Linked DNA regions of Homo sapiens. The protein of the gene in region 1 interacts with the protein of each later gene in a biochemical or structural test. Each region holds a gene or a part of one and is shown in the gene's direction. Other genes may lie near its edges. The genes, in order: PARP1, POLA1, MACROD1, UBE2I, HDAC1, CDKN1A and EP300.

Region 1 (3,500 bases):
ATGTGCATAGATATCTGCCAAAACAGAAGTTCAAGGTTCAAGTATGTTTGGAAAAGGTAGGGTAAAACAAAGCTAAACAGGTTTCTGTGTGGGTTTATTATGCTGATTACCACTGTAGGTCTTCAGGAACCAGAGAAATAGAATACAGGATTTCCCATACATATTTGACATCAGGGTGTTTTTTCTTTGGAGTGTTTGTTAACATCGTGCTGTAGAATGGTTTGGAGAAGGCTGCCCTGGCTCATCATACCTTAGAAAAGGGGGAATGTTGCTGATAAAAACACTCTTGGGAGCATTAGACTTGGAAGCAAAGGAGAGCTGTGAATGCTGAGGGTTTGGAAGTACACACTAAATATAACTGTAGTAATTTGAAGTTTCAGTTTTGTTTTAAACTTGTATTTTGGTTTTTTTTCCTTTCAATTTGAACAGAGGAGGTGGAAAAGATGAATAAGAAGATGGAGGAAGTAAAGGAAGCCAACATCCGAGTTGTGTCTGAGGACTTCCTCCAGGACGTCTCCGCCTCCACCAAGAGCCTTCAGGAGTTGTTCTTAGCGCACATCTTGTCCCCTTGGGGGGCAGAGGTGAAGGCAGAGCCTGTTGAAGTTGTGGCCCCAAGAGGGAAGTCAGGGGCTGCGCTCTCCAAAAAAAGCAAGGGCCAGGTCAAGGAGGAAGGTGAGGGCCCCAAGCTGCCCCCTCCAGGGCCAAAAGCCAGGGACATTGGTGGCCAGGTTGTTGTCCACGGAACCTCTCCCTTTGTGTCCCTGACATGGCCTGTTGAGTGCTGCAGAGCAGGACACAGAATGGCAGGCGCTTTGGGGTGGCGGGAGTAGTGTGTATATAGATGCCGAGTTGACAGATGATGGGAATGAGAACAACTCATTTGCCTTCTACCTTCCCCTTACTTTTTAGTTACATTTAACTTCATGTTTACATTTTTCTGTTCTCCTCCAAGGTATCAACAAATCTGAAAAGAGAATGAAATTAACTCTTAAAGGAGGAGCAGCTGTGGATCCTGATTCTGGTAAGCAAACAGGACTGCCAGCAAAGTGGGCTGTGCCGCCCCCCAACCCCCAGCTGACTAGGAGCACACATCCAAATGCCCGCAGCATACCTGGGGCAGTGTGGTCGTGCCTTTGTCCTCACTCAGGCCTCCTTCACCAGCTCCCCCAGTCCTGAGAACACACATTTGTGGGGAGCCTCCCGAGGGTGGTGGTAGTGTATCCAAGAGGCGTGAACCTCAGGCCTGCAGATCCCTTCTCCGTGAGAGTGCTAGCACCTCAAGGGGAGAGAAAACTGTAGGTGCTTTTCCTCTGGGACAGGACTGGAACACTCTGCGCATGTCCTGGAGAAAGGTGGGAAGGTCTTCAGTGCCACCCTTGGCCTGGTGGACATCGTTAAAGGAACCAACTCCTACTACAAGCTGCAGCTTCTGGAGGACGACAAGGAAAACAGGTGAGTTCTGCAGGTGTAGCCTGGTTGTGCAGAGACATGGGCCCGTCCTGCATTGGTTAGTGCTGTGCCATCAGCCTTGTGAAACCCGTTAGGCCCAGTGCCTGGGGAATGAAATCTAATCACAGAGATCAAAAACAAATTATAAGGCCTTTGCTTAAAGGGGAGAAAGAAGCCACTTACTAACCAGTAGCGTTGCTGTCCTTGTACAGTTGTCCCAAGGTATGGTTTCACATATTCTTCTGCTGGCTTTTCTTTTTGTTTGGTGTTTTGTTTTTTGTTGTTGTTTTGCAACTATTTGTTTTGTTTTTTGAAATAGTCTCGCTCTGTTACCCAGGCTGGAGTGCAGTGGCGTAATCACAGCTCAGCGGAGCCTTGACCTCCCAGGCTCAAGCAATCCTCCCACCTCAGCCTCCTGAGTAACTGGGACTATAGGTGCGCACCACCATGCCTTATTTTTTATGGAGACGGGCCTCGCTGTGTTGCCCAGACTGGTCTCAAACTCCTGGACTCAAGTGATCCTCCCGCCTCAGCCTCTCAAAGTGCTGGGATTACAGGCATGAGCCTCTGCACCCAGCCCCAGCTGGCTTTTCTTTCAGCTACTTGAATCAAGATTTTCTGATTTTACATATGTTTTAAAACTTTGAAGCAAATAAAGGTTGGCAAGCGTTGAACTTACTCTTTAATGTTCAAACTCCCTAGTAACTAAAGAGGTTGGATTTGCCTTTTTTTTTTTTTAACATGGTGAGACAGGCAAGGTTGGAGTGTGGATGGTGGGGTACAGCAGCTGGGAGGTGGTGAGAGGTTGGGCTGGCTTTTGTCCTTATGTTTCTAGGCAGAGTGGTCCTTATCTAGTGAGTTCATTGCCCCTCAGTACAGCCACCACAAAATAGCATTTATGTGTCAGTGTAAAGGCATGTGGAAGGAACTCTTACTAAATTCTAACGTTGATTGTGGATGTGGACATTTTTCTGGTGGCTTAGATTTCCTGGTGTTAAGTGAAAGGGTGGTGTAGGCTGTTAGGGTCAGAAAAAATTTTCAACGTAGATCAAGGTAGTGCTTCTCAAAAATTTTCACAGGAAAAACCAAGCAGAGAATGAATTTTTATACCCCTGTTCAGTAGCCCAGAGAATGGCCAGGGAGTCCCAAATTTTCTTTGAAATCTGTAGTTCTATCTTTAAAATGTACACAAATCTTGTATGTGGGTTTATGATATATATATATTTATTATGAAATGACAATTAAGTGTTGCATTACCTCTGCTTTGAGTTAATCAAAAATTAGCTCATCCAAAGCTGAGCAGCACAGCAGCTGGGTGTGTGTGATGTGTACCCTCAATTGAGATGGAATTTGAACATGACAGCCTGCATCTCTAGGTCACCGGACCTGAGGAGCCATTGCCACTGCCCCCCTCATTTCATCATGTCTTGGCCTTGGATCTGAGTTGAAAGTTTCATTATTTTTAGGGTACAGCTGTAAGGGTTGACTCCTTGAACACATGACTTCCAGATAGTACTTTGTATTTCTTTGGGGAGAGGACTAGAATCATTTTTATGCAAAGGTCTCCAGACTCCAGGATTCAGTCCTCAGGCTTGGCTGCCAGAACCAAGTTTAAACTATTCTTTGGCATTTTTTGTAGTCAATATGATTTGAAAGTTTAATGAAAAGTAAAATAAAGACCCTTTATTGTTATAGCAGTTGTGTTTGTTCTGTGTTAATCACCATCCTTTTGGGGTGTGTAAAATTCTTCCCCACGTGAATGTAATGGCAGGAAAGGGGAGCTCCTGAAATGGGACAGCTGACCCACACATGTGTATCTGACACCCTCCTTCCCACTGCAGGTATTGGATATTCAGGTCCTGGGGCCGTGTGGGTACGGTGATCGGTAGCAACAAACTGGAACAGATGCCGTCCAAGGAGGATGCCATTGAGCACTTCATGAAATTATATGAAGAAAAAACCGGGAACGCTTGGCACTCCAAAAATTTCACGAAGTATCCCAAAAAGTTCTACCCCCTGGAGATTGACTATGGCCAGGTAACCACATAATG
Region 2 (3,500 bases), on another chromosome or scaffold:
TCTCCCAAAGTGCTGGGATTACAGGTGTGAGCCACCGCGCTGGCATGTATATGTATTTTTATTTCCTTTTCTTTCTTTTTTCTGAGACAGATTCTTGCTCTGTCGTCCAGGATGGAGTGCAGTGGTGCGATTTGGGCTCACTGCAACCTCCGCCTCCTGGGCTCAAGCTATCCTCCCACCTCAGTGTCCCGAGTAGCCAGGACTACAGGCACATCCTGCCACGCTCGGCTAATTTTTTGTGTTTTTAGTAGAGACAGAGTTTCGCCATGTTGCCCAGGCTGGTCTCAAACTCCTGGGCTCAAGCAGTCCGCCCGTTTTGCCCTGGGAAAGTGTTGGGATTACAGGCATGAGCCACGGTGCCCGGCCCCTTTTCTTTCTTAAACAAAAGATAATGTTATAGAGGTTTTGTACTTTGCTTTTTTCTTGTAGCAAGATGTCTTGAAAATTACCCCATATTAGAACATAGAGAGCTTGTTTTTAATTATTTATTTCTATGTAGCTGCATAGTATTCCATGATAGGGATTGCACAATGTTTATTCAAATGGTTTCCTTGGAAGGACATTTAGATTATTTTGAGTAATTTGCTATTATAATGCCACATCCAATAACTCTGTGCATATGGCGTTTTCCTCAGAGAAAATTCCCAGAAGTGGGATTGCTGGCTCAAAGAGTAGCTACGCATAAATTTTTTTTTTTTTGAGATGGAGTTTTGCTCGTTGCCTAAGCTGGAGTACAATGGCGCGATCTCGGCTCATTGCAACCTCTGCCTCCTGAGTTCAAGTGATTCTTCCGCCTCAGCCTCCTGAGTAGCTGGGATTACAGGTGCCTGCCACCACACCCAGCTAATTTTTGTATTTTTAGTAGAGACGGGGTTTCACCATGTTGGCCAGGCTGGTCTCGAGCTCCTGTCCTGAGATGATCCACCCGCCTTGGCCTCCCAAAGTGCTGGGATTACAGGCGTGAGCCACCACGCCCAGCCCACTACACATAAAATTTTATTAGCTATTGCCTATTCTTTATAGGAGCTGTCCCATTTTACACTCTCATGAACAATGTATGAATGTCTGTTTCTCTACAGCCTTACTAACAGTGTTTTCAAGCTTTTGAATTTTTGCCACTCTGATATGTGAGAAGTGGCATTTCAGTGTGGTTTTCATTTGCATTTTTTTTTGTTTGTTTGTTTTTGAGACTGAGTCTCACTTTGTCACCCAGGCAGGAGTGCAGTGGTGCGGTCTCAGGTCATTGCAACTTCCGCCTCCTGGTTTCAAGCGATTCTCCTGCCTCAGCCTCCCAAGTAGCTGGGACTACAGGTGTGTGCCACCATGCCCGGCTAATTATTGTATTTTTAGTAGAGATGGGGTTTCACTATGTTGGCCAGGCTGGTCTCGAACTCCTGACCTCGTATTCCGCCCGCCTCGTGGCCTCCCAAAGTGTTGGGATTACAGATGTGAGCCACCATGCCCAGCCTCATATGCATTTCTTTTACATATGAAATTGATCATCTTTTCATAAAACGTAACTATTTATATATGTTTGTGTTTACTGCCTGCTTTCCTTTTGGGCTTTTTATCTTTTAAGTTTTTAAAAGTTCTTTGTCAGGGAAATTGGTCCTTTATCTGTGATACATATTGCACAAATTTTTTCTTCATTTTTCTTTTAACTTGGTTTTCTTTTTTCTTGGTTTTTCTTTTTACACCAATTCTGGTGTAATTGAATTTATCATTTTTTTTCTTGCAAGTGGATTCTGAGTCATAGAAAGATTTTCACTGGACCCAAATTGCAAAGGAATTGCTTTTTAAAAGGTTTTTGTAAAGTTTCATTTTTAAAAATTTTGATTTGTGATCCATTTGGTGTTTATACTGGTTTACTTCTTTACAAATGGCTAGCCAACACTACTTAATAAAGTCCATCTTTTCCTTAGTGATATGGGATGCCACCTTCATTATATATTAAATTTCCATAAGTAATTGGGTCTTATTCTGGACTTTATGTTCTGTTTCATTTGGTCTATTTGTATGCCACTACCACATTCTTATTTTTTTTATTTTTTTATTTTGAGACAGAGTCTTGCTCTGTTGCCCAGGCTGGAGCGCTGGAGTGCAATGGCATGATCTCGGCTCACTGCAACCTCTGCCTCCTGGGTTCAAGCGATTCTCCTGCCCCAGCCTCCCGAGTAGCTGGGATTACAGGCATGCACCACCATGCCTGGCTAATTTTTGTATTTTTAGTAGAGACAGGGTTTCAGCATGTTGGTCAGGCTGGTCTCGAACTCCTGACCTCGTGATCTGCCTGCCTCGGCCTCCCAAAGTGCTGGGATTACAGGCGTGAGCCACCGCGCCTGGCCTACCACATTCTTTCAATTATTCATTGTTGGCTTTTTTTTGAGATCAGGACTATTCTGGGATGAATCAGAAAGCGAGAGTAAAATTGACGGTATTAGAAAAGTTTGTAGGTGATTTACACATAGCCGTAAGAGAAAACATATGGCAAAAGTTTTGTTTGTTTTTTTTCTTTTTCAAGACAGAGTCTTGCTCTGTTGCCAGGCTGGAGTGCAGTGGCGCGATCCCAGCTCACTGCAATCTCGCCTCCGGGGTTCAAGCGATTTCCCTGCCTCAGCCTCTCGAGTAGCTGGGATTACAGGCATGTGGCAACCACGCCTGGCTAATTTTTTGTATTTTAGTAGAGATGGGGTTTCACCATGTTGGCCAGGATGGTATCGATTTCCTGATCTCGTGATCCGCCCGCCTCGGTCTTTTAAAGTGTTGGGATTACAGGCGTGAGCCACCGCACCCGGCCAGCAAAAGTTGTTCTTTAATGAGCAGATGTCTCTGTGCTGTTTAGTGTTGATATGACATACTGTGTATCTGGTTGCTGTTTCTCATAAAATGGAAATTAGGATGCCACCATATCATAATTGGTAATCCCATTTCTTCACAGTTAAATTTTCCTATCAGATTCAGTATACAGCTAAAGAGATGATCTCATGAAGGCTACTAGGCTAATTTCTTGGTTCAAGATTAGCTTTATCTTTTTATTTCTGTGGGGAAAACAAACCCAAATTCTCACTTTTTTAAAAAGCTTTTTATTCACATTAACAATAGCAGTTAAGCAGTCACACTTATGCTGATATTTAACTGGTATTTCATTAGTTTCTATAAAAACATTTGGCCCATGTTTTCTTGAATTAAACTCATTTAAAATATTTTTTCCTACATACCTTGTATAGAATCTCATAGTTTTGTTTTGTTTTGTTTTTTGAGATGGAGTCTTGCTCTGTCGCCCAGGCTGGAGTGCAGTGGCGTGATCTTGGCTCACTGCAAGCTCCACCTTCTGGGTTCACACCATTCTCCTGCCTCAGCCTCTGGAGTAGCTGGGACTGCAGGCGCCCACCACCATGCCCGGCTAATTTTTTGTATTTTAGTAGGGACAGGGTTTCACTGTGTTAGCCAGGATGGTCTCGATCTCCTGATCTCGTGATCCTCCCGCCTTGGCCTCCCAA
Region 3 (3,500 bases), on another chromosome or scaffold:
TTTTTGAGATGGAGTTTTGCTCTTGTTGCCCAGGCTGGAGTGCAATGGTGTGATCTCAGCTCACCGCAACCTCCGCCTCCCAGGTTCAAGCGATTCTCCTGCCTCAGCCTCCCGAGTAGCTGGGATTACAGGCATGTACCACCACACCCGGCTAATTTTGTATTTTTAGTAGAGATGGGGTTTCACCATGTTGGCCAGGCTGATCTCAAACTCCTGATGTCAGGTGATCCACCTGTCTCGGCCTCCCAAAATGCTGGGATTACAGGTGTGAGCCACCATGCCCGGCCGCTCAGCTGATTTTTTGTATTTTTTGGTAGAGATGGGGTTGCTCCATATTGTCCAGGCTGGTCTCGAACTCCTGGGCTCAGGTGATTGGCTTGCCTTGGTCTCCCCAAGTGCTGGGGACCCAAATAATTAGAAAAGTTCCTCCGGCTGCTGTGTCCCCAAGTTGGAAAAAAAAGTTCTCCACAATTTTGTCCTGTTTGCTTTGTTCTCTTTGGGCATTATTTAGCCGCCAGGAAGGAGTGAGTGTGTCTGGCGTGTAGACCGCACTTTGCAGCACACAGCCACCTTCTCCTTTGACCCTCCCAGCAAGCCTGGGTGTTAGCAAGGGAAGGCCTGCCTTGTCCCTATTCCAGAGATGGGAAAACCCAAGGCTTCAAACTGAGCATGGTGTTGGGAGGTCACGAACCCAAACCTGGCGGGACCTATAACAGAAGAAAAGGCGCAGCCTGGGTCTAGGCCGGCTGCCACCAGCATCTGTCCGTCCTCAGACAGGGAGGCAGACCTGGAGAGACCGACTGGCCTCACTTTCTCCACCCAAATGCTCTCTCTCTTTTTTTTCTTTTTTAATTAGGGGATCATCTCTGGCTCCCTCTTACCTCTGGGCTTTTGCACATACTGTTCCCTCTGCCTAGAAGACTCTGTACTTAGCAAACTCGCCCTCAACCTTTGGTCTTGGCTCATTTATTCCTCAGCGTGCCCCTCAGGCACCCTCAGGTGCCCACACACCGTGCCAGGTGGTGGGAATCTGATGGCAAACACAGCAGATCCCCTATGGAACCTACAGGTCAAGATGGCCAAGATCAAGAAAGGGGGCCGGCGCCGTGGCTCACGCCTGTAATTCCAGCACTTCGGGAGGCTGACATGGGTGGATTGCTTGAGGTCAGGAGTTCAAGTCCAGCCTGGCCAACATGGTGAAACCCCATCTCTATTAAAATACAAAAATTAGTTGGGTGTGCTGGCACACGCGTGTAATCCCAGCTACTAGGGAGGCTGAGGCAGGAGAATTGCTTGAATCCAGGAGTGCAGGTTGCAGTGAGCCAAGATCGTGCCACTGCACTCCAGCCTGGGCGACAGAGTGAGACTCCGTCTCAAAAAAAAATAAAAGAATAAGTGTAAACAAAAGCAAACTATCCCATATCCTGCAGAGCACAGCAGGTACAAAGGGCCTGGGGCAGGAAGCAGCCTGGCTGTTTGGGGAACTGGTGTAGTGGGGGAGGCAGCATTGGGAGTGAGGTGGGAGAGAGGCCAGAGGACCGGCGTTTGAATGCAGTTTTGAACAGAGGAGGGATGGCACCTGATTTATGTTCCCAGGATCCATGGCTGCCGGTCAAGGAACAGATGGGGATGAGATGCACACGGAGATCAGCTGGGAGTTGGGAGCGTCTGTGGGATCTAGGGAGCCATGAGGAAGGCTCAGTCCTGGAGGGTGAGAGGAAGGCTTGGTTTCTAGGGTGTCACGGGGATCAATCCAAAAGAGGATGGAAAGGGAGGGACCCCTGGTGCAGGGTCTCGAGTAAAAAAGAGGGAAGAATGGAGCAACAAAAAAATGACGTTTTGGGGGAAAGAGTCAAACGTTCTGTTTTGCATGCCTGGGCTTTGGGGAATGAGAGCAGGCAGGCACTGTGGGGGTCAGAGGCTCAGAAGAGAGTGGAGGGACAGCCCCGGAGGTTGCTTGCTTAAAGAGCGTTTTGAATCTGTGCAACTGATTAGAAGACCTAGGGAGGAAAGCAGCAAGGACACTTCCTGTCCACAGGGAAGGCAGGAGGGGCCGCTGCATGGGGTGTGGTGACCTTGACCTTGTTGGAAGGAGGGACCAGACTGGGTGGACTGAAGGGAGCATGGGAGGGAAGAAGTGGAGACAGCAGAGGAGGGGGCAGCTGCAGGGGCGTGGAATGCGGGCGTTGAGGGAGGGGACGGGATTATTTGAGGGCAGGCAGGACAGCCTGGTGGAGGGGGACCTGCAGCAGTGAGTCCTCTGGGAGGTGGGCTTGGCAGGTGGCAGCGCTGGTACTGAATGCAGGACCTACTCGTGCCCAAACATGTTTATGGAAGAGGGGGCAGAAGTGGCTGCCAGGAAAGGTGGCTCTGGCTTGAGCAGCAGTGGGGGCTGACCAGGGGTGGGCCTAGCCTTTTGTGATGACCCCACCTTTGCATCCAGCAGGGACTCTGGACTGGGCCCCTTGCATGAGTTCTGTCATCTAATGCTCTCAGCATCCTTGGGTTGTTATCACCCCTGCCAGCAGTGGTTAGATGAGGAGATGGAGGCCTGGATGATGAAGTGACTCTGGCCGGGAAAACACCCTGCTGTGTGAGGGTGGCCTCCCAACCTCCCTGAACATTTGTGGAGGGACCTACCTGTCCCCCTCACTGCCATGTGCATAGAAGCTTCCAGGCTGCAGTCCTTCCTTTCTCACCACCTCCTCTAATTGCTCTCCCGCCTCTACATATTTTTTGATGCTTTTTGAGTTTCTCAATTGTAGCCTTTGCTGTTTGCCGTGGGGGCTGCCCCATCCCGGGAGCCTGTGGTCCAGGGTGCCAGGCTGGGCTGAGCGCCTGGGTGTGCAGGCGGCCTCGGGCCAGCAGGGGGAGCCCGTGAGCTGCTAGCCTGGCCTGGCGCGGTCGGGGCGGGCCCTTCTGAGACGGGTTCCAGGTTTCTGTGCCTGGTGCCACCCCCAAGGGAAGGCGGAGCCCATGGGACAGTGCTCAGGCAAGGGGAGCCGGCCAGGGTGGACCCCGAGTCTGTGAGCGGGTGGGGGGTGCCTGGCTCCTCACTCAAGTCCCTGCTGTGTGAGGGTGGCCTCCCAACCTCCCTGAGCCCCGGTTTCCTCATCTGTAAAACGAGAACGATTCCAACCCCATTGGTCATGCTGGGAGCCCTCAGCCGCTGCCGGGGGGGATGTTGGGGACAGGTGCCAGGTCCACTTGGTCCTGCAGCTCCTGGAGGAGGACAGCTGTCCCGCTGCCTGCATGCAGTGACAGTGAGGGCAGAACTGACTGGCGGTGGGACTGATGGATAATGTCGCTGGCTGAGTGCTGCCAACCGGCTTGGCCTTAGTGTGTGGGAGGAAGCTCGGAGCTGTTCTGCAGGGGACGTCTTCACCCCCGTTCTAATCAGGGAGAAACGGGGGACCCAGAGAGATGTGGACGCTGCTGGAAAGTGGCAGAGCTGAATTCATCACAACCCAGGTCTGCGATGCCTGAGCCAGTCCCTCAGC
Region 4 (3,500 bases), on another chromosome or scaffold:
AATTAGCCGGGCGTGGTGGCGCACACCTGTAACCCCAGCTACTCGGGAGGCTGAGGCAGGAGAATGGCTTGAACCTGGGAGGCGGAGCTTACAGTGAGCCGAGATCACGCCACTGCACTCCAGCCTGGGCAACAGAGCCAGACTCTGTCTCAAAAAAACAAAACAAAAGGCAAATGTTTTCCTGCCTAGCCCTTAGATGGTCTGCCATCCCCAGCATGGTGTGGGCGTGAGCTCTGTCTGGCCTGCACCCCATTTGCCGACCATCTCCAGAGCTGGGCTGTGGCTCCCATCTGCGGCGTGGGCTGGGCAGGGTTGCAGTCCCCCGCCCCGTGTGACTCTCCCCAGCGTCTCCTGGGCTTGGTGCCTGCTGGGCTGCACTGTACACTTGCGTGCACGTAAACAAACGTTCTTTCTCCTACACACATCCGCTTGAAAAGCACCCTTTGTGAAGCATGTGTGCGGGTTTCAGATCGTTTTTCCTGGGTTTCCTGGAGGCCTTGGACCGTGTTCCTGCCCTGGCAGGTGCCTTTTCTCGGGGCCTCTGCTTGGTCAAGGAAGAGCTGGGACGTGTAGCCACCGCCTCTGGTTCCTTCCACGCCCACCCAGCTGAGCTGCTCTGCCCTGGGGCCGGCTGGTGGCCCAAGGAGGGCGCTGGGGTCTGGGCTGCGGTCCAGGCCCTTGGCGTGGGTGGGGGTGGCACCGGCGCTGCTGCCGTCCTGGGCTGTTCCACCATGCAGAGTGAGGCTCAGTGTCTCAGACCAGGTCCAATCCTGGCGAGACTGGCAGGACTGCGACCCCAGGAGCCACCTCCATAAATGTCATGGTGTTCCCCCATCCTCAGGGTCACACTGCACCCTGTGACCCATCAGCCCCTAGGTGCAGCCTCGGCCGCCCTCCCGCCCACCTGTTTTGCCCGGGCAGTGTGTGCCATGCCACTCTCCTGGGCAGCTGCTTGCAGGCTGAGCCTCACTCTACCCAGCTCCAGACCTGTTCGCTGATGCCCCTGCACTGCCCAGCTCGGGCACAACGCCTTCTCAACCAGGCCTGCCTTCCCACACCTTTGCCCCTGCGGCTGAGAGCCTCATGGAAAAACCCTCCAGAAATTGGTGTCTATTTTTGGGAATTAACAAAAACAGTGGCAAGCAGTCAGTGTTTTCAGTTTATTAGGACTGTCCCCAGACCTACAGAAAAGAGAAGCTGCTGATTACTAGTTAGGACCAGACTTGGCATCGGCAACGATGTTGCAGGCCCTGGCGTGGGCCCTCTGGGCCTGAGCCCTCCTCGCAGCCCTGCGGGACCCCTCTGTCCCCCTTGAACACCACGTTCACCCAGCGTGGGTTCCTCTCCTCCCTGCCCTTCTGCCCCCGTCAGACCACGGGACAGTCTCAGCCACGTCAGAGCCAGCATGGGCTCCCCACCACGCAGGCCTCCCTGCTTCTCCGGGCTTCTGCTTCTGTTACTATGACGAGCTCCACACTGCCCTCCCCCAGGAGGTCCCATCCTGCAGCCTGGTCTGCCCAGCTGGCTCCGGGGCGAGCGTGAGGGCCAGGCAGCTCAGCCCTCTAACACGTCTCTTCTCTTTTGACCTCCTCAGCCAAAACAGAGTGGAGTACGAGAAAAGGGTCCGAGCACAAGCCAAGAAGTTTGCGCCCTCATAAGCAGCGACCTTGTGGCATCGTCAAAAGGAAGGGATTGGTTTGGCAAGAACTTGTTTACAACATTTTTGCAAATCTAAAGTTGCTCCATACAATGACTAGTCACCTGGGGGGGTTGGGCGGGCGCCATCTTCCATTGCCGCCGCGGGTGTGCGGTCTCGATTCGCTGAATTGCCCGTTTCCATACAGGGTCTCTTCCTTCGGTCTTTTGTATTTTTGATTGTTATGTAAAACTCGCTTTTATTTTAATATTGATGTCAGTATTTCAACTGCTGTAAAATTATAAACTTTTATACTTGGGTAAGTCCCCCAGGGGCGAGTTCCTCGCTCTGGGATGCAGGCATGCTTCTCACCGTGCAGAGCTGCACTTGGCCTCAGCTGGCTGTATGGAAATGCACCCTCCCTCCTGCCGCTCCTCTCTAGAACCTTCTAGAACCTGGGCTGTGCTGCTTTTGAGCCTCAGACCCCAGGTCAGCATCTCGGTTCTGCGCCACTTCCTTTGTGTTTATATGGCGTTTTGTCTGTGTTGCTGTTTAGAGTAAATAAACTGTTTATATAAAGGTTTTGGTTGCATTATTATCATTGAAAGTGAGAGGAGGCGGCCTCCCAGTGCCCGGCCCTCCCCACCCACCTGCAGCCCCACCGCGGGCCAGGACCAGGCTCTCCATCTGCTTCGGATGCACGCAGGCTGTGAGGCTCTGTCTTGCCCTGGATCTTTGTAAACAGGGCTGTGTACAAAGTGCTGCTGAGGTTTCTGTGCTCCCCGCATCTGCGGGCTGTAGAGCGCTGGGCAGCTAAGATCTGCATAGGTCGGGATTGGCATCGAGACCCTGGCAACTGCACCGGTGCCAGCTGTCTTGGGGGCCACAAGGCCAGGTCCAGACCAGGGCTGGGGGCTGCCTGAGGACTCCTATCCGGGCAGCCTGCTGGCGGGGGTTCCCCTCTTCAGTGGCCAGGTCACAGGGATGGAGCTGCGCTGTGCATAGGGTGCCACCTCAGGTGTCTGTCCCTTGTGTCCTCAGGAGGCAGCCTTGCTACCACCCGTGGCAAACGCCAGGTGCTTTTTCTGGGAGAGCCCACAGCCGTGGCCCTCCAGGGCTTCCCCGACCCTTAGCGCCAGGTAGAGGGCCCTGGGCAGCCTGTGTCTGGAATTCTTCGTCCTGAGGCCACCTGAGTGTGGTCTGTCCTGGGGAGGCTGTGCGCCTCAGCAGCCGTCCTGACGCTGAGCCCTCTGCAAAGGTTGGGCCGGCCAGGCCTCTTGGGGCTGCCTGAGCCACTGCAGGAAGTGGCCTGGCTGGGAAGTTGGGTGCCGGTCACCTCCCAGCAGGAAGGCACAGTGGACAGAGATGGGAAGCCCTGGGGGACACAGCCCGGTGCTCCCAGCCCTCCAACCTCTGGCTCCCAACCCAGTCTCCCCATCCTAGCGAGCTTGGCCCTCCTCAGTTTCGTTTCAAGCCTTGGGGCTGGAGCTGGCCCTGCTGCCCTGGCACCCCCCGGTGGCTGGAGCTGGGTCCCCGTGGCCCAAGTGCAGGGTCCCAAGAGGGCAGGGCGGGGCTCCCCAAAGGAGCAAAGAATGCAGGGAGGGCGGTCCAGGGCCCTGGGAAGGGGAGCTCGGCACCCTCCAGGTCCGTGTGGGACTCCAGCCGCTGTTGGCTGGGAATCGAAGTTAGAGGTGACTTCCAAAGGCCCCCCGAGCCGGCAGTGCCCCCCACCACCCCTCCAGCGACTCTGCGGTGCCAGTGCCTTGTTGGCTTTTCCGGCTACGCACCCTGCAGTCACTGAGCTCTCGGTCTGACGTCTGATGTTTGTGGTTTGTTTATAACACGGGGCCTTACCTGGGGAATT
Region 5 (3,500 bases), about 190 Mb from region 1:
GCCAGAGTTTTACAAAAGAGCAGTTACCCTTACTGTTACTCTGATATTTTTTTCTATGCTATTTCATTAAAAAAATATATATATATATACACACACACACTAATCATGATGTACTAAATCAATTTTAAGGCCTGCTAATGGGTTACTACCCTCAGTTTGGAAAATCGTTTTTTACGAGTAGACAGTATCATGTATTCCCTGCTGAAGTAGGGTGGGAGGGAGGGGACTGGTCTATGAATTGCACAATACAGCTGTTGAATAGGCAGGTCTTAACCTTTCACTAGGTTCCCTGGGCTTCTTGGAGGAAGGGGAGAGTGGCTTAGTAACAGGCTTATGTTCTCTTTTCTCATGCCCAGCAAGTGCTGTGAAACTTAATAAGCAGCAGACGGACATCGCTGTGAATTGGGCTGGGGGCCTGCACCATGCAAAGAAGTCCGAGGCATCTGGCTTCTGTTACGTCAATGATATCGTCTTGGCCATCCTGGAACTGCTAAAGTATGCCTGCCTGGCCTTGTCTCTTGGAAGAGCACCTTAGGCCAGGTTCCCATTTCCCTCTTCCCCTGGGCTTGCCTCCCTAGTTTGCTTTTCCTACCGATGTGCTGGCTAGGATGTGCTCGGTGAGTGTCTCTGGCCATCATCTCCTTGATGGGGTCTTGGTTTGATCTGAGCCACGGCATGATCAGGGGCAGATGCTGCTCAGATCCTGCCTCCAGAGTGTCCCTGTGTGGCTGGAGTTGACCCTGGCTGTAGAGTAGGAAGATCGGACTTGGTCGGCTTGGTCAGGCCTCTGGAGACACCCGGCCGCTCTTCCACCTTCCTTCAGCCAGTTTCCACGTCTCTGGTGCTTAGAGATACCTGAGGGAGGCAGCCAGCCCGGTAAGCTGGGAGCTAGCGCCCTTGGCACGTCCCATCCCCAAAGAGCCCCCAGACCCCTGACCCCCTTCTGATCCTAGGTATCACCAGAGGGTGCTGTACATTGACATTGATATTCACCATGGTGACGGCGTGGAAGAGGCCTTCTACACCACGGACCGGGTCATGACTGTGTCCTTTCATAAGTATGGAGAGTACTTCCCAGGAACTGGGGACCTACGGGTGAGAACGCCCTTTAGGAGCCAACCGGCTTACCCTCAGCTGGCAGCTCTACTTCTCTCTCCTATCTCATGCCACTAAAAATTGCTTCTTGCCTCTTCTGCCAATCAGAATACCACATCCCAATCTGAAGCACTTGCCCTGATCTCTTTCCCTTCCTTATTCTGGAGGAAGGGAATGATGGGACATAAAGGGCCAGAGAAAGAAGAGGGGTCTCCTGACTCACTGTACTTTCCTCCTGGCCACAGCTGGGTTGCATCACACTATTCTTATGTCTCATAAGCCTTGAGTTTGGGGGTAGGAATTGGGACTCTGAAGGACATCTCAAGTGTTCTTCATGTTTTTGGGTCACTTTCCCCTTTAGCCTTTTGACTGAAAACTATGGACTGTCTCTCCAGAAAAGTACATGAGATTTTACATCTGATATAGAATAGTTAATAGACAAGTCCCCTTACTGAAGCCCATCCATGAACCTTAGGATAAGAATCCTTGGAAGCTACTTCGTTGAACTGTTCCATCTGCTTCTATTAGCATGAATGTGGTGAAATCAGCTGCTTTGCCATGCCTGGTAGCCCTTGGGTAAAAAAGTGGCACTAATTCAGTTGTTTGCCATGGCAAGCGTTAGAATAAATGAGCATTCACTTTTTTTTTTTTTTTGAGACAGTCTCTCTCTGTCACCCAGCCTGGAGTGCAGTGGCGTGATCTCGGTTCACTGCAGCCTCCGCCTCCCGCCTCCAGGCGATCTTGTGCCTCAGCCTCCGAATAGCCGGGATTTAGCTGGGATTATAAGTGCGTGCAACTATGCCCGGCTAATTTTTGTATTTTTAAAAGAGATGGGGTTTTGCCATGTTGGCCAGGCTGGTCTCGAACTCCTGACCTCAAGATTCACCCGCCTCAGCCTCCCAAAGTGCTGGACTTAAATAGGCGCACTCACTATTTTGAGGTTACTGGGAAGGACTTTCTTACCTCTCTCCTTCCCTCCACAACACCCTAGAGAGGGAGCATGGGGGAAGAGGAGTGAGCATTAGAGCTCTCTGGAGTGGAAAGGGTTGTCAAGGGTGGCTGTCACTTCTGTGACTCACCTGCCAGCCAGCTCTAACCCAATCCCAAGGTAGAAATCTTGTGCTATAGGGTAGGCTATTCAATCTCTGGTCCCATCAAGAGCTCTCAGTCTGGGGGTAGGCTTAATGCTATGTCCAGAGATGATTTGCCAGTGAAGCTAGATTTGCCAGTGAAGAGAATGGTACTAACAAGGTACCTCTGTTCTGTCCTGGCCCACATCATGGGCCTAGCTTGTCTCTCTTGAACCTCTTCCTTTATCCCTCCAGCCCCTATCCTTGACCTTCCTTCAAGCTTCATCCTTCAGTTTTACTTTAATGGCCTTTTTAATTAGGATATCGGGGCTGGCAAAGGCAAGTATTATGCTGTTAACTACCCGCTCCGAGACGGGATTGATGACGAGTCCTATGAGGCCATTTTCAAGCCGGTAAGTGGCTTTATCCACCCCTTGGGCTACAAACAGGGGATTGGTTGGCGGTGGAGGGGAGCAAAGCACCCCCACCATACCTCAGGAATCTCTCCTTACTAAAGCTGGTGGGGAGATAGAAGTGTTTGAACCCTGGATTGCTGTGTGGTCAGTTAGGGGAACAAACACCCATATTTATTGGTTCCTTCTATGGGTCAGGTCTTCTGCTGGATACAAAAATATCTAAGACATGATCTTTGCCCTCACGGACTATGGTGGGGAAGGCAGGCACATACCCAGTAGTCTATGATTAGTACTGTTTTTGTATCTCCATTTCTTTGGGCTGCTGGGAGATTATTGTGTTCTTTTGGTAGTGGTATGTCTCCTTGGTTTTTTGTGTTCCTCATTGCCTTACATTGATGTCTGCACATTAGAAGAAGTAGGGACTTACTCCAGTCTTTGCAGACTGGCTTTGTCTGGGAAAGCCCTTTGCCAGTCAGCCCATCCAGAGATTCTGGAAAGGCTGTGTGGCATGTTCCATGGGTAGGCTGGCCTAGTGCCTGTGTTTTTGAGGGATGATCAGAGGAATGAGAGACAAACTACTGCCTGGGCTGGCAGGAGGGTAGCCAGGGATGATTTCACAGAGGTGCTGATGTTTAAGCTGGACTTTGGAAAATGAGGAGGTGCCCATGTGAAGAAGGAGGTGATGGCAGTAAGGGTGGCATTTAGTAGAAGGAATGGCACTAGCAGAAGTGCAGAGGTGCCAGTGTGGCAGCATGTAGGCCAGTGTGGTGTATGGGAGGAGTGCTGAAGGAGGCGGTGGGAAGTGTATGCTGGGCTCAGTATTTCAAAGGGAGCCTTGAATGCCATGCCAAGGAGTTAAATCTTCACTTATAAACAGTAAGAAACTGCTTAACCTAATAAGGTCAGGTAGTCATTCAGC
Region 6 (3,060 bases), on another chromosome or scaffold:
AAGGTAGATTTATTTAGTCCTTATAGCAATGTTATAACATAAGACATTCTTGTCACCCTGCCCGCCTTTCTTTTTGAGACAGGTGTCTTAACTCTGTTGGCCAGACTGGAGTGCAGTGATACGATCATGGCTCACTGCAGCTTCAAACTCCTGGGCTCAAGCGATCTTCCTACCTCAGCCTCCTGGGTAGCTGGGAAGCTGGGACTATAGTTGTACACCACTACGCCCGGTTAATTTTTTGAGTTTTTGTAGAGACAAGGTCTCACCATGTTGCCCGGGCTGGTCTTGAACTCCTGAGCTCAAGCAGTCCTCCTGCCTCAGCCTCCCAAAGTGTTGTGATTACAGGCGTGAGCCACCATGCCCAGCCCCTTGCCATCCTTTTAGGGCAAGGAAACCAGGCTCAGAGAGGTAGAGTGATTTATCTAAGGTCTCAAAGTGAATTTGCCGTTGGGTCAAGACTAATTATAATAACAACAACTACTGACGTTTATATGGGCCCGGCATTGTGCTGAACACTTTCATGGATTTTGTAACAGAATCCCTAGATCAGCACTGTCCAGTAACTCTGCAGGGATGGGAGTGTCCGGTACAGGGGCCACGAGCCACATACGGCTGTTGTGCATTTGACACACAGCTCATGTGACTGAGGAACTGAATTGTTCATTTTATTTGATTGTAGTCTGTTTAAACAAGCACACAGAGCTAGTAGTGGTTCCTCTGCTGGGCAGCTTGACTTAGAGCAGACCCATGGGTGCGGGTGCGGTGATGGATAAAATCACATCTGTGAAGCATGGTGGGACACTCCATAATACCCCTCAAGAGACAGAGTGGACGTTCCCCGAGTTCTTCCTGTTCTCAGCAGTCGGCCCCATTGGCCCCAGGGAAGGGTGTCCTGGCCCCCCACTGTCTTCCTCAGTTGGGCAGCTCCGCCGCGTCCTCTTCTTCTTGGCCTGGCTGACTTCTGCTGTCTCTCCTCAGATTTCTACCACTCCAAACGCCGGCTGATCTTCTCCAAGAGGAAGCCCTAATCCGCCCACAGGAAGCCTGCAGTCCTGGAAGCGCGAGGGCCTCAAAGGCCCGCTCTACATCTTCTGCCTTAGTCTCAGTTTGTGTGTCTTAATTATTATTTGTGTTTTAATTTAAACACCTCCTCATGTACATACCCTGGCCGCCCCCTGCCCCCCAGCCTCTGGCATTAGAATTATTTAAACAAAAACTAGGCGGTTGAATGAGAGGTTCCTAAGAGTGCTGGGCATTTTTATTTTATGAAATACTATTTAAAGCCTCCTCATCCCGTGTTCTCCTTTTCCTCTCTCCCGGAGGTTGGGTGGGCCGGCTTCATGCCAGCTACTTCCTCCTCCCCACTTGTCCGCTGGGTGGTACCCTCTGGAGGGGTGTGGCTCCTTCCCATCGCTGTCACAGGCGGTTATGAAATTCACCCCCTTTCCTGGACACTCAGACCTGAATTCTTTTTCATTTGAGAAGTAAACAGATGGCACTTTGAAGGGGCCTCACCGAGTGGGGGCATCATCAAAAACTTTGGAGTCCCCTCACCTCCTCTAAGGTTGGGCAGGGTGACCCTGAAGTGAGCACAGCCTAGGGCTGAGCTGGGGACCTGGTACCCTCCTGGCTCTTGATACCCCCCTCTGTCTTGTGAAGGCAGGGGGAAGGTGGGGTCCTGGAGCAGACCACCCCGCCTGCCCTCATGGCCCCTCTGACCTGCACTGGGGAGCCCGTCTCAGTGTTGAGCCTTTTCCCTCTTTGGCTCCCCTGTACCTTTTGAGGAGCCCCAGCTACCCTTTTTCTCCAGCTGGGCTCTGCAATTCCCCTCTGCTGCTGTCCCTCCCCCTTGTCCTTTCCCTTCAGTACCCTCTCAGCTCCAGGTGGCTCTGAGGTGCCTGTCCCACCCCCACCCCCAGCTCAATGGACTGGAAGGGGAAGGGACACACAAGAAGAAGGGCACCCTAGTTCTACCTCAGGCAGCTCAAGCAGCGACCGCCCCCTCCTCTAGCTGTGGGGGTGAGGGTCCCATGTGGTGGCACAGGCCCCCTTGAGTGGGGTTATCTCTGTGTTAGGGGTATATGATGGGGGAGTAGATCTTTCTAGGAGGGAGACACTGGCCCCTCAAATCGTCCAGCGACCTTCCTCATCCACCCCATCCCTCCCCAGTTCATTGCACTTTGATTAGCAGCGGAACAAGGAGTCAGACATTTTAAGATGGTGGCAGTAGAGGCTATGGACAGGGCATGCCACGTGGGCTCATATGGGGCTGGGAGTAGTTGTCTTTCCTGGCACTAACGTTGAGCCCCTGGAGGCACTGAAGTGCTTAGTGTACTTGGAGTATTGGGGTCTGACCCCAAACACCTTCCAGCTCCTGTAACATACTGGCCTGGACTGTTTTCTCTCGGCTCCCCATGTGTCCTGGTTCCCGTTTCTCCACCTAGACTGTAAACCTCTCGAGGGCAGGGACCACACCCTGTACTGTTCTGTGTCTTTCACAGCTCCTCCCACAATGCTGAATATACAGCAGGTGCTCAATAAATGATTCTTAGTGACTTTACTTGTAATATTACTATTGTGGTTATTATACCTTATAAGAACAAATAAATGGGCTTTTGGGAAGGATTTCATAATTAAATAATTTTAAAAATTAAGCATTTAAATTTAGAGAATGCAGAAAACTTAGCAAACAGAAAGACTGCTGCAAAAAACAACAGCAAAACAAAAACTACTGTCACACCTCTGCAAAGATCACCAATGTCAATATTTTGGTTTGTTGTGTAATCTTTTTGTAAAGAATATATTATAGCTTAACATCATTATTCATCAGATAAATGCAAATTAAGATACCACAATAAGATACCACCATACACTTACCAGAATGATTAAAAAAGACTGACAGTGCCAAGCATTGGCAAGGTTATGGAGCAACTGGATCTCTTATTTAAAAAAACTGTTTGGGCCGGGCGCAGTGGCTCACACCTAGAATCCCAGTGCTTCGGGAGGCTGAGGCAGGAGATCACTTGAGGCCAAGGGTTCAAGACCAGCCTGGCCAACATG
Region 7 (3,500 bases), on another chromosome or scaffold:
GAAATAGTTGCTGGTTCTTTGATGTACAATCAGCCAACCAGTATTTACAAGTCTTAATTCTCCTGTTCTTAAGCATAATTAAGGGAGGTGAAATGGGCAGAGCAAATGAAAGCACCATGAATAAATATAAGCCAAGAAATAGGTGGCTAATTCTGCTATCCTGTTGCTTACCTTACATTCTGATTGTATCGTTGGCAGACTCTGCGTGTGTCTCACCTACTTCCCTTTTTTTTCTGCCCAGCTTTCCCAGCCAGCTGTAAGCATTGAAGGACAGGTATCAAATCCTCCATCTACTAGTAGCACAGAAGTGAATTCTCAGGCCATTGCTGAGAAGCAGCCTTCCCAGGAAGTGAAGATGGAGGCCAAAATGGAAGTGGATCAACCAGAACCAGCAGATACTCAGCCGGAGGATATTTCAGAGGTGAGAGTAGGGCAATTACTGTTTGATTTGGTTAGGACCTCAGTATAGGAACCCAAGTTTTAAAAAATATTGCAGAAAAATATTTTGATAATTAGATCTCATGGCATAGATTTTGCATGAGAAAGGGTGTTCAGATTACTGATTCCCAACTAGATATCTTTGGAATACTAAAAATTCTTACGTTTTCTTTTAGTCTAAAGTGGAAGACTGTAAAATGGAATCTACCGAAACAGAAGAGAGAAGCACTGAGTTAAAAACTGAAATAAAAGAGGAGGAAGACCAGCCAAGTACTTCAGCTACCCAGTCATCTCCGGCTCCAGGACAGTCAAAGAAAAAGAGTGAGTCTCTGAAGCCATTCGTTCTGGAGGTAGCTGAAGAAACCAAAGACCCAGGGCAGAATTGCGGTCATGCCTCTTGGGCCTCAGAAGTTGCCATTATTGTGATTTCATTAACCTGGAAGCCCTGGGCCTGGTCTCTTCATTGTTACTAATAATTTTTCTTTCTTTTTTTTTTTTTTAATATTCACTTGCAGCAACCAATGAGTTAAGTCATTCCCCTCATTTCTTCAGGGTTCCCTGTGTTAGTACACCCTAAAAATTGTCTCATTTTTCAGGAGAGAGAAATGTTTGTAAATAGCCTTGACTAAAATGCAGGAAAGAATAGCAATAGTAATAGCATTTGTCATTCACCTGCTGTGTGCTAAGTATCCACATTGTCTCATTTAATAATTTCTTTCTTTCTTTTTCTTTTCTTTTTTGTTTGGAATCGGATTCTCACTTTTGTTGTTCAGGCTGGAGTGCAGTGGCGGGATCTGAGCTCACTGCAACCTCCACCTCCCAGGTTCAAGCGATTCTCCTGCCTCAGCCTCCCGAGTATCTGGGACTGCATGCGCATGCCACCATGCCCGTCTAATTTTTGTATTTTTAGTAGAGACAGGATTTCACCGTGTTGGCCAGGATGGTCTCGATCTCTTGACCTGGTGATCCACCCGCTTCGAGCTCCCAAAGTGCTGGGATTACAGGCATGAGCTACCACACCCGGCCTCATTTAATAATTTCACAACAGCTCTGAGGTTATTGGCCTGAAGCTTAGCAAAGTTAAGTAACTTTCCACAGGTTACTCAGCTGACCCTACTGCCTGGGCCAGGAAGCAGACCCAGGCAGTCTGAGGCAGAGTGCTCAAATCCAGCCATTCCAACAAGTGTTAATTGACTATTTTAGGACTAGAACTTTTGTGGCTCTAGTGATCTGCAAAAGGCACCAGGTAGGACATACCTGAGGAGTGAGTCTGCTGGCTCTTACAGATGATATATATTGAAAAGTGTTCCATTAATACAATGTGTTGTAAAATGTTGGGATTAAAAAATTATTTTCATTTTAAAAATAAGACTTGTATATATTGAGGTGTTTTAATATGGGCTGTAACAAACCCAGTCTTACTATTGGCAATCTCTCTTTAAAATGTGTGTTCCCTCATGCCTGTAATCCCACCGCTTTGGGAGGCCGAGCGGGCAGATCACTTGAGGTCAGGAGTTCAAGACCAGCCTGGCCAATATGGTGAAACTCTGTCTCTACTAAAAGTACAAAAGTTAGCCGGGTGTGGTGGCTCTCACCCGTAGTCCCATCTACTTGGGAGGCTGAGGCAGAAGAATCACTTGAACCCGGGAGATGGAAGGAGGTTGCAGTGAGCCAAGATGGCGCCACTGCACTCCAGCCTGAGTGACAGAGAGTAATTGTCTCAAACAAATAAATAAAATAAAATGTCTAATTTCACAAGTTTATTCAAATAGTCCTTATTTTTAGCACAGCTAAATATGAGTGACAAGCATCTTCGTAGTCTGGTTTCCCCCCACTCCATGGCAACCCCCCAGAGGTGAAAATTATCTGAAGTAACAAATATACTCTACCGATGATGAAATTTTTTTTGCCAATTAAGAAAAAATAAGGCCCTTGCTGAAATTGAAAGCTTTTTAAATCACTGGCTTCTCAAAGAACTGTTTGATTCCATTTGGGACACACCAACAAATTTTTCCGGACTTTTTGGGAAATATCATTGAGAACACATTTGAACTTAATTTGATCAACTAAGTCTATTATTTTAGCAATACCATTTTTGTTCTCTCTTCTTTTAAACTTAAACCTAACATTTGTCATTAAAATAGTACATGTCTCTTTTTCTTTGGCTCTAAAATACCAAGCATTTGAACGAAGGAGTCTTCTCTTCTGTGCCCCTGACTCCTTGTAGTATAAGACAATACCTGATCTAGTCTAGTTTCTGACTTGTTAAATACTGATGTCATGAAGAAAGACTTTTCTGTTCTTGCTTGACTGCATCTCCCTCTTAACACGAGTATCTTGTGCACTCTTTTTTTTTTTTTTTTTTTTTTTGAGATGGGGCCTCATTCTGTTGCCTAGGCTGGAGTGCAGTGGCGCCATCTCGGCTCACTGCAACATCTGCCTCCCGAGTTCAAGCAGTTCTCTTGCCTCAAGCCTCCTGAGTAGCTGAGACTAGCATGCCACCATGTCCGACTAATTTTTTATATTTTTAGTAGAGACGAGGTTTCACCATGTTGGCCAGGCTGAAACTTCTGACCTCAAAGTGATCTGCCCACCTCAGCCTCCACCGTGCCTGGTCCCATGGACTCTTATTTGGCAAAGTCTCTTCATAAATTTTTAGAAGCCTTTGGATTCTGCTTCTAATTGACCGAGTCTGTCTTCACTGACTTTGTGACTGAAAAGTTAAGCTGAGGGTGAAGAGTGTTTTAAGGTGATAAGACACAATGTTTTTTAGGAGCTGTCTGAAACAAAGCGGGGCTTAGAATCTAGAATCAGTGATTGAGCCTGTAGTGATATTTCCATGGGGACAGAGTGGTTAATTTTGTTATTGATTCTTGAGATGCTTTTAGAGCTTCAGGCTGAATGATTTTTTAAAGTTCTTCTGCTTAATTGGTAACTAATTTCAAATGCACTTTTTTTTTTTAAGTTTTCAAACCAGAAGAACTACGACAGGCACTGATGCCAACTTTGGAGGCACTTTACCGTCAGGATCCAGAATCCCTTCCCTTTCGTCAACCTGTGGA

Evidence for each region.
Region 2: the proteins of PARP1 (region 1) and POLA1 interact in far-western blotting, tested with the Homo sapiens proteins (one study listed by BioGRID).
Region 3: the proteins of PARP1 (region 1) and MACROD1 form a complex in vitro, tested with the Homo sapiens proteins (one study listed by BioGRID).
Region 4: of the proteins of PARP1 (region 1) and UBE2I, one has a biochemical effect on the other in vitro, tested with the Homo sapiens proteins (4 studies listed by BioGRID, with this or other methods).
Region 5: the proteins of PARP1 (region 1) and HDAC1 form a complex in vitro, tested with the Homo sapiens proteins (2 studies listed by BioGRID, with this or other methods).
Region 6: the proteins of PARP1 (region 1) and CDKN1A form a complex in vitro, tested with the Homo sapiens proteins (2 studies listed by BioGRID).
Region 7: the proteins of PARP1 (region 1) and EP300 form a complex in vitro, tested with the Homo sapiens proteins (2 studies listed by BioGRID, with this or other methods).

The regions. Positions count from the first base shown.
Region 1 is NC_000001.11:226,377,094-226,380,593, reverse strand, and holds part of PARP1 (poly [ADP-ribose] polymerase 1), read left to right. Parts: intron 1-429; coding exon 430-672; intron 673-952; coding exon 953-1,021; intron 1,022-1,319; coding exon 1,320-1,452; intron 1,453-3,290; coding exon 3,291-3,486; intron 3,487-3,500. UniProt on the Homo sapiens protein: Poly-ADP-ribosyltransferase that mediates poly-ADP-ribosylation of proteins and plays a key role in DNA repair.
Region 2 is NC_000023.11:24,710,918-24,714,417, forward strand, and holds part of POLA1 (DNA polymerase alpha catalytic subunit), read left to right. Parts: intron 1-3,500. UniProt on the Homo sapiens protein: Catalytic subunit of the DNA polymerase alpha complex (also known as the alpha DNA polymerase-primase complex) which plays an essential role in the initiation of DNA synthesis.
Region 3 is NC_000011.10:64,152,614-64,156,113, reverse strand, and holds part of MACROD1 (ADP-ribose glycohydrolase MACROD1), read left to right. Parts: intron 1-3,500. UniProt on the Homo sapiens protein: Removes ADP-ribose from aspartate and glutamate residues in proteins bearing a single ADP-ribose moiety. Inactive towards proteins bearing poly-ADP-ribose.
Region 4 is NC_000016.10:1,323,136-1,326,635, forward strand, and holds part of UBE2I (SUMO-conjugating enzyme UBC9), read left to right. Parts: exon of another isoform or gene 1-1,594; coding exon 1,595-1,658; 3' UTR 1,659-3,500. UniProt on the Homo sapiens protein: Accepts the ubiquitin-like proteins SUMO1, SUMO2, SUMO3, SUMO4 and SUMO1P1/SUMO5 from the UBLE1A-UBLE1B E1 complex and catalyzes their covalent attachment to other proteins with the help of an E3 ligase such as RANBP2, CBX4 and ZNF451.
Region 5 is NC_000001.11:32,326,583-32,330,082, forward strand, and holds part of HDAC1 (histone deacetylase 1), read left to right. Parts: intron 1-356; coding exon 357-495; intron 496-561; exon of another isoform or gene 562-876; intron 877-953; coding exon 954-1,095; intron 1,096-2,485; coding exon 2,486-2,578; intron 2,579-3,500. UniProt on the Homo sapiens protein: Histone deacetylase that catalyzes the deacetylation of lysine residues on the N-terminal part of the core histones (H2A, H2B, H3 and H4).
Region 6 is NC_000006.12:36,684,773-36,687,832, forward strand, and holds the end of CDKN1A (cyclin-dependent kinase inhibitor 1), read left to right. Parts: intron 1-679; coding exon of another isoform or gene 680-738; exon of another isoform or gene 739-978; coding exon 979-1,028; 3' UTR 1,029-2,560; downstream 2,561-3,060. UniProt on the Homo sapiens protein: Plays an important role in controlling cell cycle progression and DNA damage-induced G2 arrest. Involved in p53/TP53 mediated inhibition of cellular proliferation in response to DNA damage.
Region 7 is NC_000022.11:41,151,592-41,155,091, forward strand, and holds part of EP300 (histone acetyltransferase p300), read left to right. Parts: intron 1-241; coding exon 242-421; intron 422-614; coding exon 615-759; intron 760-3,403; coding exon 3,404-3,500. UniProt on the Homo sapiens protein: Functions as a histone acetyltransferase and regulates transcription via chromatin remodeling. Acetylates all four core histones in nucleosomes. Histone acetylation gives an epigenetic tag for transcriptional activation.